Linked DNA regions of Homo sapiens. The protein of the gene in region 4 interacts with the protein of the main gene of each other region in a pairwise test. Each region holds a gene or a part of one and is shown on either strand. Other genes may lie near its edges.

Region 1 (3,232 bases), on a different chromosome or scaffold from region 4:
AGGACGGGCACTTGATTCCTGGGGGCCATTAGGACAAGGAGGTGGAAGCTGTAGGTTTTGCAAGGACTAAAGAAGCAAATTGGTTTTCTGGAGTCTGGGGCATCTGGGATCCTTCAGGCTAAGGGTCCAGGGCCAGAGGTCTGACCCCTTATAACAGGACGGTGATGGCCAGGCGCAGTGGCTCATGCCTGTAATCCCAGCACTTTGGGAGGCCAAGGCGGGCGGATCACTTGAGGTCAGGAGTTTGAGACCAGCCTGGCCAACATGGCGAAACCCCATCTCTACTGAAAATACAAAAATTAGCCGAGCATGGTGGCACACACCTGTAATCCCAGCTACTCAGGAGGCTGAGGCAGGAGAATCGCTTGAATCCGGGAGGCGGAGGTTGCCGTGAGTCAAGATCGCACCATTGCACTGCAGCCTGGGTGACAGAGCGACTCCATGTAAAAAAAACAACAACCAAAAAACAGGATTGTGAGGCCTAGAGAGAGTTCAGTGGAAGGGCCTGGGGTTCCTACTGGACAGTTGGAAATCTGGGGAGCTGAGTTTCCCAGAAGCTGGGGGACCAGCTGGCTGGGTTTTGGGGAGAGAAGGTGGAGGTAGATGGACTCAGTATGCAGGAGTGTGGAGGGGGAGGCTCAAACTAGCTTTTTTGGGTTGCAGTACTCCAGTCCTAAATCTCAGGTGGGAGTTAGACTGAGAGTGAAGGTTGCTAATCTCCAAGGTGGGGGGTAGGGAGAGGAGGAGGCCGCTAAGAGTTTAGGCTCCTTGTCAGAAGGGAGGGGAGATCTCTTGGTTTTCCACGGCTGGGATCTCTATGAGAAGATATCCTTTATCGGGAGGTCGGAGCTCTTATTAGATGTGGGTCCCTGAGAGTGGAAGCCTGGGGAGGTTGGGCCGTTTAGAGGCTGCAAATGTCTAGGTCACTGTTCGATGGAAGAAGGAAGTTTGCTCACAGGGTCTGGGGTGCAGAGCTCTGAATACTGAAAGAAAAGGAAGTTGAGAGATGGGGTTTTCAGAGCCTGTGGAAGACAAGCGTTTTGTTCTGACACTTGGGTTGTGGCAGGAGGCAGAAGGAGGATGCTTTATTTTTTATTTATTTTATTTATTTTTATTATTTTATTTTATTTTTTGAGATGGAGTTTCACTCATGTCACCCGGGCTGGAGTGCAGTGGCGCAATCTCGGCTCACTGCAACCTCCACCTCTAGGGTTCAAGCGATTCTCCTGCCTCAGCCTCCCAAGTAGCTGCGATTACAAGCGCCCACCACCACACCCAGCTGATTTTTGTATTTTTAGTAGAGACGGGGTTTCACCATGTTGGTCAGGCTGGTCTTGAACTTCTGACCTCAAGTGATCTGCCAGCCTCGGCTTCCGAAAGTGCTGGGATTACAGGCATGAGCCACTGCGCCCAGATTATTTTATTTTTTTTGAGGCGGAGTGTGGCTCTGTGGCTCAGGCTGGAGTGCAGGGGTTCTATCTTGGCTCACTGCAACCTCTGCCTCCTGGGTTCAAGTGATTCTCCTGCCTCAGTCTCCCGAGTAGCTGGGATTGCAGGTGCATGCCACCACGCCCAGATAATTTTTGTATTATTAGTAGAGACCGAGTGTCGCCACGTTGGCCAGGCTGGTCTCCAACTCCTGACCTCAAGTGATCCACCCACCTTGGCCTCCGAAGTGCTGGGATTACAAGTGTGAGCCACCACACCCGGCCTATTTGTAATTAAAAAAAATTTTTTTTTTTTGAGTCAGGGTCTCACTCTGTCTCCCAGGCTGGAGTGCACTGGTGCATCACAGCTCACTGCAGCCCTGACCCCACAGGCTCAAGCAATCCTCCCACCTCAGCATCCCGAGTAGCTGGGACCACACGCACACACCACCACACCCAGCTAATTAAAAAATTTTTTTTTGGTAAATGAGGTCTCCCTAAGGTTGCCCAGGCTGGTCTCCAACTCCTGGGCTCAAGCAATCCTCCTGCCTCAGCCTCTTGGAGTGCTGGGATTACAGGCATCAGCCACACCTGTGCCTGGCCAGAGGGGTGGTGCTATAGAGTACAGAGTGCTAAATGGCTGAGCTACTGAGTCCCTTGGGGAGGGAGGGAAAGAGGGAAGCACGGTATCTGGAGTGGGAAGCAAACAGTGTAGTTGTACAGTAGTTAGGTCTTGAAAGAGAGAAGAATCTCTTGAGAAGGAGGAAAATAGGGGCCTAGACTCCTGGATTCTGATACGAGTAGGGGAGGAGTGAGCCTTGAACCGGAGGGGACAGGCTCATCCCTGTATGCCCAGGACTGTCCCCATTTGAAAACCCAAGGCTGGGCCCGGTGGCTCACGCCTATAATCCCAGCACTTTGGGAGGCCAAGGCCAGCGGATCATGAGGTCAGGAGATCGAGACCATCCTGGCTAACACAGTGAAACCCCGTCTCTACTAAAAATACAAAAAAATTAGCCGGGCGTGGTGGCACATGCCTGTAATCTCAGCTACTCGGGAGGCTGAGGCAGGAGAATCACTTGAACCTGAGTAGCAGAGGTTGTAGTGAGCTGAGATTGTGCCAATGCACTCCAGCCTGGGCCACAGAGCAAGACTCTGTCTCAAAAAAAAAAAAAGAAAAGAAAACCGAAAGCCCCACATCTTGGGAACTCCCTAATTAGAGCTCATATTAATTTGTCCCTGGGGTAGGCAATGGCTAAGGGACCTGGATTCTTATGTTTGTGACTGTATAAGGACACTGTCTTTCCCCTTTTTGCAGCCATGCCAGTGACGGTAACCCGCACCACCATCACAACCACCACGACGTCATCTTCGGGCCTGGGGTCCCCCATGATCGTGGGGTCCCCTCGGGCCCTGACACAGCCCCTGGGTCTCCTTCGCCTGCTGCAGCTGGTGTCTACCTGCGTGGCCTTCTCGCTGGTGGCTAGCGTGGGCGCCTGGACGGGGTCCATGGGCAACTGGTCCATGTTCACCTGGTGCTTCTGCTTCTCCGTGACCCTGATCATCCTCATCGTGGAGCTGTGCGGGCTCCAGGCCCGCTTCCCCCTGTCTTGGCGCAACTTCCCCATCACCTTCGCCTGCTATGCGGCCCTCTTCTGCCTCTCGGCCTCCATCATCTACCCCACCACCTATGTCCAGTTCCTGTCCCACGGCCGTTCGCGGGACCACGCCATCGCCGCCACCTTCTTCTCCTGCATCGCGTGTGTGGCTTACGCCACCGAAGTGGCCTGGACCCGGGCCCGGCC
Region 2 (3,330 bases), on a different chromosome or scaffold from region 4:
AGAGGAACTTCCTGGCTGTCCCTCATCACTTACCAGTCAGTCACTTACCAAGAACCACGTGTCTGGCAGGACAGGAGGAGGAAGAGGAAACAGATGGGAGGTCAGAGGAGGGAAGATTAAGGAGTGAGTTTCAAGAAGGAGGGATATAGCAGGGAGGATGAGCTAGACGTTGAGGGCCTTGAGGGGAGGAAGCTGGTGTGGGGAGGGTTAGGGAAAGAGGAAGTAGAGACAGGGAGAGTGAAAGCTCCTCCCCGGACACGTGCAGGCTGAGGAGGAGAGAACGGGGTGGTCACTAAAGGCGGGTGGGCAGCAGCAATGCAAGGTCTGGAGAGCCATGTGTCTGCTTTTCCAAGGCCACAGAAGCCACTGGAGAAAAAGGAGTGGAAAGAGAGCTGGGGTTGATGGATAAAGCCACAGTGAGAGGAGGCAATGAATGAGCCCCTTGGAGGGAAGGCAGTGGGTTTTAGGCCCAGGACCTGGGCTGGGTGGAGAGGAAGACACATCCCAGCAGGCAGATGGCTTTGGAGCAGGCTGGTTTGCAGAGCTGGCGCACTGCGCAGTTCCAGGGACCTCTGTTCACACAGACTATGAGGTCATGGCTGCAGAGCCGGAGGGGCAGCAGATCCCAGGGCCAGGCAGACCTGGGTTCGCATCCTCCCTTCAGGGAGGACAATTTCCCTGAGTGCCTGGAACTTCAGCTGCCTCCTCTGGGAAGCGGGGCTAAAGAAACCTCATTCCCTAGAGTTTCTCTAAGATTTTAACCACTCTACTTAGGTCTATGGGCCTTGGATAATGCCTAACAAATGATGGGTGTCCAACAAATGTTTGTTTTCCTTCTCTGAAGGGCAAATTAGGATCTAGAATGGGGAAGAGACTTATTCCAGGTCTCACAGAAAGTAAGTGGTGGACTGGCCGGGTGCGGTAACTCACTCCGGTAATCTCAGCACTTTGGGAGGCCAAGGTGGGAGGATCACTTGAGGCCCAGGAGTTCAAGATCAGCCTGGCCAACATGGTGAAACCCCGTCTCTACTAAAAATACAAAAAGTAGCCAGGTATGGTGGCACACACCTGTAGTCCCAGCTACTCGGGAGGCTGAGGCAGGAGAGTCGCTTGAGCTCGGGAGGCGGAGATTGCAGGGAGTCAAGATCCTGCCATTGCACTCCAGCCTGGGCGACAGAGCAAGACTCTGTCTCAAAAAAAAAAAAAAGGGAGATAGAGCAAGTAAGTGGTGGAGGTTAGAACACAGCTCCCAGATGCCCAAACTCAGTACCCTCTGCTAGGAAGAGGTGACTTTTCTGAGTATTTCCTGAACACAGTTTCAATCACTTCCCCTGTATTACCTCATTTAAACCTCTCATTTACATGAGGTTGGTCCTAGTATCCCTATTTTACAGAAGAGCACACTGAGGCTCAGAAAGTTTAAAGCAAAGTGTGTGGCTTACCTGAGGTCACACATCCGGGAAGTGTCAGAGCTGGGACTCAGATCCAGGGCCTGCGTCCTTAACCACTAGGCCATGAATGTGGCCAGGATGTTGAGGGAATCTTGGGCACACCGCTCATCCTACACTCCCTCTCCAGTGCCCTCCCGAAGCCTCCTATTCTACGATGACGGGGCAGGCTTATGGGAAGATGGCCGCAGCACCCTGCTGCCCATGGAGCCCCCAGATGGCTGGGAAATCAACCCCGGGGGGCCGGCAGAGCAGCGGCCCCGGGACCACCTGCAGCATGATCACCTGGACAGCACCCACGAGACCACCAAGTACCTGAGTGAGGCCTGGCCTAAAGACGGTGGAAACGGCACCAGCCCCGACTTCTCCCACTCCAAGGAGTGGTTCCACGACAGGTGGGGTGTGTGGCCCCTTTCCCTCCTGAGGTCTCAGGCTCCACCTGCCTCCTGCCCACCCTTGGTCCCCACATTGGCCACACCCTCCCAAGGCCCCATCCCTACTTGGTCTAGATCCAGCTTGCAGAGGGTAAGAGGGTTCCTGCTGGACAGTCATCGCTGGCCTCTCTTCTCTCTCCAGGGATCTGGGCCCCAACACCACCATCAAACTCTCCTAGGCCATGCCAAGACCCAGGACATAGGACGGACCCCTGGTACCCAGAAGAGGAGTTCTTGCTCACTAACCCGGATCCGCCTCGTGCCCCTGCCTCCTGGAGCTTCCCATTCCAGGAGAAAAGGCTCCACTTCCCAGCCCTTCCTTGCCCCTGACATTTGGACTCTTCCCTTGGGCCGACCACTCTGTTCTCATTCTCCTTCCCACCAACATCCATCCGTCCTTCTCAGACAAACCACTCACTGGGTACCCCACCTCCTCTCTCATATGCCCAACACGACCACTGCCTCCCTGCCCCCACACCTGCACCCAAACAGACACATCAACGCACCCCACTCACAGACACCCCTTACCCCACCCCCACTGTACAGAGACCAAGAACAGAAATTGTTTGTAAATAATGAACCTTATTTTTTATTATTGCCAATCCCCTAAGATATTGTATTTTACAAATCTCCCTCTTCCCTTCGCCCCTCCCTTGTTTTATATTTTATGAAGTTAGTGCGGGCTTTGCTGCTCCCTGGCCCAGGAAAGAGGGACTACCTGACCCTCACCTGGCACCCCCCTGCTGCTGCCCAAGCCGCTGGGCCTTTTTAATTGCCAAACTGCTCTCTTCATCAGCTCAGCACATGCTTTAAGAAAGCAAAACCAAAAAAAAAAAAAAAAAGATGCAGCATCAACTCCTGACTTTGTGCCTTTCTTCATTGGAGGGGAGGGAAAGTAGAACCAAAGGGCAGGGGAACAACAAGGGTAGGTTGATTTTATGTTCTGGCAGGGGGTGTGGGGGTATAGGAGTATGAGAAGGCATTTTTTTTTTTTTGTAGAGGTAGGGTCTCGCTATGTTGCCCAGGCTGGTCTCAGACTCCTGGGCTCAGTCTGCCCACCATGGCCTCCCACAGTGCTGGGATTACAGGCGTGAGCCACCATGCCCAGCCTGTTCACTTTTTATTTTCCAATATTTTGTTGACTGATTTGTTATTTCCTCTTCTGTCTTTGGGCTTTATTTATAGCTTTTATATGTGTATGCTTTTATTTGAGGATTAGGAAGATAGTTTAGATAAATGTTTTTTATCTGCCTATTTAAGGAGAACCCCATGTATGTATGTATGTGTACATGAATGAATGACAAGATCTCGCTCTATTGCCCAAGTTGGAGTCCAGTGGTGCAATCATAACTCACTGTGGTTTCAAAATCCTGGGCTTAAGCAATCTTCCACCTCAGCCTCCCAAAGTGCTGGGATTACAGGCGTCAGCCACTGCACCTGGCCAAGAA
Region 3 (3,706 bases), on a different chromosome or scaffold from region 4:
GCTGAGGCAGGAGAATCACTTGAACCTGGGAGGCGGAGGCTGCAGTGAGTGGAGATCAGACCACTGCACTTCAGCCTAGGTGACAGAGCGAGACTCCGTCTCAAAAAAAAGAAAAAAAAAGAAAGAAACTCATGGATAATCCTCCCTCTCGTGCAGTTCGCCTCTACGGACCAAACTTCATCCTTCAGGTGTACTCATCTCAGAGGAAGTCCTGGCACCCTGTGTGCCAAGACGACTGGAACGAGAACTACGGGCGGGCGGCCTGCAGGGACATGGGCTATAAGTGAGTATGGGGCAGCACCCGCCGAGTGACAGTAACAGACAGCAGAAACACGAGAAGACCCTCTCTCTGCCTCCCTGTGAAAGCACCGGCACATGAGTGCTGGGGACAATTGTCACCTTCCAAAAGCTGAGCCCTATAACCAGCAGGTGGAATTTGTCCTGCTAGGGCTGTGCCCAGCACACAGACCTTGGCTCACTGCCACCTTGCCCTGCCTCCTCCTTGGCCTCTATAGACTCCTGGTTGCTCGGGAGTGCCCAGTGCTGTGGTCATCTGGTCAGAGGGGTAGGCTGAGGGCGTTAGGTGCCTCTTTTTCCAAGGTGCCTCTCAGCCAGGGTCCATTCACCTCCCTGGGTAGAGGTTGGACCAGAACAGCTGGCGAGGAGGGTTGGGCTGGGGAGAGCAGCAGAGACAAATCCTGTGCCAGTTTCACTTCATTCGGGAGCCATGGAAGCCTTTTGAGCTGGGGAGAGAATCAATCAATCAGACTGATACTTAAAAAATGTCATTCCTGCTCGTAGCTCTGAGGGAAGGTGGGAAGGCTTAACAGGGTGTGTGTCGCCTGACAGTGATTCCTAACGGGGGTGGGGCGGTGGTTACCATTTACCAGCACTGCCTGGGGAGATGCGGCAGCCCTCAGGCATCGGGGGAGAGGGTGGTAGGATGCTACTGCCACTTTGTTTTCCATGGGAGGGTCCCCAGGTGATTTCTATGCAACTTTAGGGTATTCAATATGCCAGTTTTCAGAATGAATTACCACTCGGTGAGAAAGTTGGCATCTTAGCTAGTCACTGTGACATCCCTAAACAGCAGGGGTGAATTACACAGCAAAGCCCCCCCATCACAGTCCAGGAACCTGGTGGAATTGATAACTGGGGCCATGTTAACATCTGTACCTTTTATTAGATTAAATGTGTGTATGATTATACAATCCTATGTCCTTCTCATAGTTTCTTGATCCTAACCTGGATAAGAAACACGACCAATGAAGGAATTTTGTCTGACACTTTAGGGTTATTGAATCGAAAAATCGTTACAATATTCTAGCACTTGGTTAGAACGTGTGATTTTTTTTCCTAAATGCTAAGGTTTTTCCCTCTTATTCTGAATGTCGTATGAGCGGTATTATGACATAGTATAGGATTTGTGTTTGCTTATGCCTTAACCATTATCACAAATAAGGTTTTCTTTTTTAGGAATAATTTTTACTCTAGCCAAGGAATAGTGGATGACAGCGGATCCACCAGCTTTATGAAACTGAACACAAGTGCCGGCAATGTCGATATCTATAAAAAACTGTACCACAGGTATGCAGCAATTTCTTCTTGAAAAATTTTGGAATGAAATCAACTAGGAGACACCATGGGGAATCGTTGTCCTGAGTCTGATTTCTCTGAGCTGCAATACTCGGTCTGGATGGGTTTTGCATTGGGAGGAGATTAGAGTCTGACCAGGCCTGGTTACTCTAAGCAGCCCTTGGTTTATTCATAGGAAGTGGCTGAGGTTTCTCTGCTATTTCATTTTCAGCCTCTACCGTCTGCCCTTGTTGGTAGCGGCTCACACTTGCAACATCGACATTCAACTCTATTTAGTTTTCTTTCCTCTTCAGACATTTAGAGGTGTACCTATTTTGTCAGGGCGTGGTTCTAGGAATCCAAGATAATGTCTCAGTGTCCCAGCCAGGGTGACCGGCTCATTCCAGTTTGCCAGGGACTTCACTGGCTTGAGCAAGGGAAGTCCTGCTCCATTCCAGGCAGCTGGGCTGGCTGGTCCCGTTAGCCCCAACCCCGGGACAGCAGTGCCAGAGGGTGCTCTGTGAGGGATGGGCAGCATTCTGGCGGCCTGGGAATGAGTTGTGGTGTTTCCAGGGGGTAGAAGTGGGTACAAGCCACAGGTCACATGATGAGTGGCTGACCTGGCTGGGAGGGCAGAAGAGGGGATGGACTTAGGCTCTTCCTTTTGCTTTGCACATATTTAGGATGTTTGCAGACTTGCTATGATTGTTGCTGTTATGTGTTTTCTGATGTGAAAGATACACAGTGTCCTTTGCCCATGAGCTCTCCTTGCCTCCCAGGTCCCCAGGGCTTATGCCTGGTGTCTAGGCATCACCTCCCTGCCTGCCAGGTGCCAGGTGCTGCATTTCGGGGGAGGATGAACTAATCACCCCGCGCCACCTTTCCTCTGAGTGGGAGCCTGGGGCAGGTTTGCATTCCTGGAGGCCGCTGGTGGAGGGGTCTGGGGGCCTGACTTCCACTGCAGCCTGCTGTCCTGGGGAATGTGGCAGGGCAAGCCCAGTGGGGAGGGCTGTGCACGGCCAGGTGCACCCATCAAAACAGCAGGGCTGCGGTTTGTCCCTGTGGAGAAGCTAAACACAGCTGCCTGGGCACTTTGTAAATGCTGAGTGGTTCTTTGTCTTTCTGGGTTACACACGGAATCAGGGAGCCAAGTCCAGCCGGGCAGGGACGGGGGGAGGGGAGGAGGTGCTGCCGTCCCTTGGCAAGAGCCTTGGGAACTCACAAGGAGGCTGGAGGGCTTGGAAGAAAGAAGAGAAGGCCATTGTCTGGTAGGCTCTATTCTATCTCGGTGGTGGTGGTGGGGGGAGGCGCACTTCTTTTCCTCTTTCTGTGCAGCAGTTGCCCTTTGATGCCTGAGTTCTTGGCTTGTTTTCTGTCGGGCTTCTGTGAATAACCACATGTGCCCTGGCGCTGTGACCACACAGGGCTATCCCTACCGACCTTAGGATTCTTAGGAAATGTCTTCTCTTAAAGGGGACATGTCTTCACTTGGCCGTGTCAGTGCCCCAGAGCCAGAGTCCACCTGGAATGCACCTGTAGTCACTGAGAACCCGGGGGGTGTGCCTTAGTAAGAAGGTGTCAGGAAGGACCTATTATTGTAGGGCCTGGGCTCCTGCAAGGTGGTTTGGGGGTGGTTGGAGGAAGCAGAGATTTGCTCTGGATTGGATGCTGTCAGGAAGCAGGGGTAATTCTGTGAGGCTGCTTTATTATTTTTTTTCTAGGAGGAGGTTGGAATGAGGCTAGGCTAAAGCTGTGATTGGTAAAGAAACGTCCGTCGCTCAAGTTAGCCAGGACAGGAGGAGACATCAGATCGTGATTTTGTGGTTGTGAGCACAAGGTTCCTGTTCTGTCTGTTCAGACATCATTTCGGAGGAGGCTCCTTGTGTCTTGCCCCATCTCAGGCATGGAGGGGCCTAGTCCGATATTGACGCTCAGTGAAATAATTCAGGTTCCGCAGAGCACACGGCCCAGCTATCAGGGCGGGCCAGCTCTGCATGCCAGGGGCCGCGTCTTCCCTTCTCAGCATAGCCTGGGAAATTCACTGCAGGACAAAATGCATCAGTTACTTCCTCTTCATCCATAACCTGGGATGTTTGACTCCCAAATGAGTAACTCTTACGTTTCTTCTAAT
Region 4 (3,346 bases):
TATGTCCCCGGTGGGCTAGTAGGCTGGCCATCCAGGGTGGTAGGTGTCACTAATTTATTTTAGTACTGCCCTGCCACAGCCTGTTTACATTTACGTTGCCCTTTCCATACCTGCTCTGTCCTTTAAGTACTAAACCTTCCATCCAGTACTATCCAAATAAAACTAAATATTAGTCACGTATGAATTACTAAGGGATCATTACTGGAATATCCAAACAATTTAAAGAGAAGGTAACAATAACTTAAATCTAAATGCACCGGGGACTGGGGCACCACTAAGGTATTGAAAAAGTAACCATAGTTGACTCTGAACATTCTGAAACCCAACTTCGAAGAGAAAAGAAACCTTTAAGTAGGCAATAAATTGGTTTCAATATCTGCGTTTTAACACAAGCTCAGACATGTACTTACTGGATTTCTTTGGGCAAATTACTTTGCTTCTATTTCTTAGTGTCTTCAACTATAAAAGTAGAAGTAATCTATTCATATACTATTTATTTCAGAGAAATGTTATGAGAATGACTTGGATGAGCTGAAAAATGAATGATCTCCTTGAACAAGGTACGATTATTAAGTTTCTATTGTGAAGTCAAATAGAACAATTCACTCAAAGGACACGATGTTTGATTGAGAACATTCTTAATTTTATTTTCTTTAATTTTATAAAATACACTTTGTAAGATAAGTTTCTAAAAGTTTATCCTTTATGTGTGTTAAAATTGCAATTCTATATCAGAAATGAAGGAAACACTTTCAGTTGATTAACTCTCTTTGTGTGTGTATATATGTGTATGTATGCATGTGAGGTTTTCAGGGAAGGGTTGGTTATTTGTTATGTTATTAAATCAAAACAAAACACAAGGTACGGATTACTTCACTGTCCTTTATCTTGATTGGTTTCTTACAAAACATTTTCCCTCTCCTCCTTCTATGCAGCCTGGAAGCTTATCTTGTATACTGGTTTGAAAACAAGTATCAAGTGTCTTTTTGTAAAGCTCTTACATCTCCTTAAATATTGCTGAAACCACTTTGGGGGAAAAGAACAACACAACTCTTTACAACAAAAGAACTGTAGTACAAATCTTTCCTTCAATTAAAACCAATCAGACTTTTTTTTTTTTTAACCCAAAGTTAACAAAAACAGGAAAAGACTGAAATCTGGGAGCTATTCAGGTCTCAAACTCTTTCTGCCTGTCCTTTTTCCTGGAAGCTTACCAACTGAATAGCTGATGACTGGTGCATTCTGTTATGTGATCTATATCAGGAGAAAATAACCTTTATGTTAAACCTAACTCTTAACACACCAAGATAACATTGCTAAGTAAAATCATTTTCCATTAGCTAGAAAGAACGATCAGATTACTCAAATTGAGATTCAAATTCACCAAATCTGTTTCTGCAAAGGCAGAATACTTGTAGAAAATCCCAATAGATTCAACTAGCCAATTTTTAATATCATTTGTGATGCTTAATGTCCAATTTTCCTAGTTTAAAAAACAGTCATAATCAAAGAATTATTCTCCAGACATTTCTGATGCAACCCCAAATAAGTAATAAACAAACTGGAATACATGAAATGTGCATCATTCTAAAACAAATCAAGACCTTCAAATCACCTACGATGACTGAATGGATAATACCCCATGAAATGAGCACCATTGTGAAGATATGACAGAGGCCAGAGTACACAACTAATTAACAGAAAAAAAGACATGCTATCCAAAGAGTTATCTATCCTGTGTCTACCAGAGGGCCATCTCAGGTTACACCATTAGCCACCAGCAACTGCTGCTCCTCAGGCCAGTCTGTTCTCATGTAAGCTAGTTTCCTTCTATTCTCAGCTCCTTGGAAACCACAGGGTTGTCATGGTAGCTGTTATCAAGGAGAAGGGAGTGAGAAGATGCTGACAACACCCTGTTTCTCTTCCCTAACGAGGTGTAAGGCCAGATGCCCCCTTCGTCTACACAGATTCTACGCTCCCTTATGCTGTAAGTAAGGTTGGCTGAGTTAGGGCTTCAGTAGTCCATCGCCATCGGGGTCAGTGCTCTCTTTCTGTGGGTGAAAGATCCTTGCTTTGACCCCCTTCTCCCAGCTGCAATAGGCAGATTTGGGCAAACGCTCTTATTGTTTTTCTGACATTCTTTTTTCTTCTATCTTCAGTGGTAATAGAGAGACCAGAATGAATTCCATTTTGTACACCAAAGAGAATATATTTGGCCCCTATAGATGGCAAGAGGACCAAAGACATTCCTTCTCTGTACCTGAGCATCTTTCCTTCCACTTTGTTTCCATCAGTGGAAGTACCCTTTGAGAAGAAATTACTTTCTGATCCTCAGGAGATGCTTGAAAATTCAATTAGAGCCTCCATTCCTTTGTGACTTGCAGTTGGGAAGTCATCTTCTTAGGCATTTCCCATTTCTAGCAGGAACCAGCTATGAAGCAAAATGACTAAAAGAGGTACATAAGAGGGGAGAGTCCAAAGAGAGACCTTAATCACTGCAAGACTCTCCTTTCTTGTTACACTCATCAAGTAAGAAGAGGGCCAGTTGGTGGCAAAGGCAAAGAGTTAAGATGGGAGACGCAGCATTGTAGGCTGTGTGGTTAGAGCCTCGCTATTAGAGAAAGGGGGATTTCTACGGGGGATCAGAACTTGGTGCCTCGGCCCATGAGTTTAAGGACGGCAAAGTTGTAAGTGGCAGCAATCATGAAGGTGAGCTGTAGGGAACAGAAGAGAGAATGTGAATGAGAGTAGAAAAGAAAGCACTCCCTCCTCAAATCCCTTTGGGAATGAGGAAGGGTAGAAATAAAATCATAACTAAATAAGGGAAAAACCCATGCTCTGCAAAAAGCAGTACATCCCAGGCTTGGCTTTCTCCATATACACTTGACTGGAAGTCCGATGTCTCTGAGGCATCATGGGTCTCATGGCCCAGGCCCAGAGAATCAAATCATAAAGATTTATTCCACACCTCTGTTTGATCTAGCACTGAGTTTTCCTCAGGGAAGTGAACAATATTTGGGCTTTGCCACATCAATATGTCCGAGTGACTTAGAGTCATAGGGTGCTTGCTGTAGACACACAGCCACATCATGCAGTAGAGCTCTCCCCTGGTTAATGAATCAATTCGTTTTACAAGGTGAGAAATTACTTGACTCTGTATGGAAACCTCAGCAGTAGGGGCCAGGAGTTCTGTGAGCTCATCTTGTCTGATCACTGCTTATAAAATAACTTCAGATAAATCACTTCACCCTTCAGTGCCTTAGGTTTTTAATCTGCACAATGAGCACACTACATTCACAGGGCACTGTAGCACTATCAGCAAGACCTGGGACATAGCATTGTATTA

The links.
Region 1: the proteins of PLP1 (region 4) and MYADM interact in binary tests that used the Homo sapiens proteins (3 or more experiments, as listed by UniProt).
Region 2: the proteins of PLP1 (region 4) and CREB3L1 interact in binary tests that used the Homo sapiens proteins (3 or more experiments, as listed by UniProt).
Region 3: the proteins of PLP1 (region 4) and TMPRSS2 interact in binary tests that used the Homo sapiens proteins (3 or more experiments, as listed by UniProt).

What each region holds. Positions count from the first base shown.
Region 1 is NC_000019.10:53,870,783-53,874,014, forward strand, and holds part of MYADM (myeloid-associated differentiation marker), read left to right. Parts: exon of another isoform or gene 1-50; intron 51-2,745; 5' UTR 2,746-2,747; coding exon 2,748-3,232.
Region 2 is NC_000011.10:46,318,686-46,322,015, forward strand, and holds the end of CREB3L1 (cyclic AMP-responsive element-binding protein 3-like protein 1), read left to right. Parts: intron 1-1,578; coding exon 1,579-1,843; intron 1,844-2,024; coding exon 2,025-2,061; coding exon of another isoform or gene 2,062-2,212; 3' UTR 2,213-2,724; downstream 2,725-3,330.
Region 3 is NC_000021.9:41,477,053-41,480,758, reverse strand, and holds part of TMPRSS2 (transmembrane protease serine 2), read left to right. Parts: intron 1-156; coding exon 157-283; intron 284-1,476; coding exon 1,477-1,587; intron 1,588-3,706. UniProt on the Homo sapiens protein: Plasma membrane-anchored serine protease that cleaves at arginine residues. Participates in proteolytic cascades of relevance for the normal physiologic function of the prostate.
Region 4 is NC_000023.11:103,789,895-103,793,240, reverse strand, and holds the end of PLP1 (myelin proteolipid protein), read right to left. Parts: intron 2,715-3,346; coding exon 2,643-2,714; 3' UTR 622-2,642; downstream 1-621.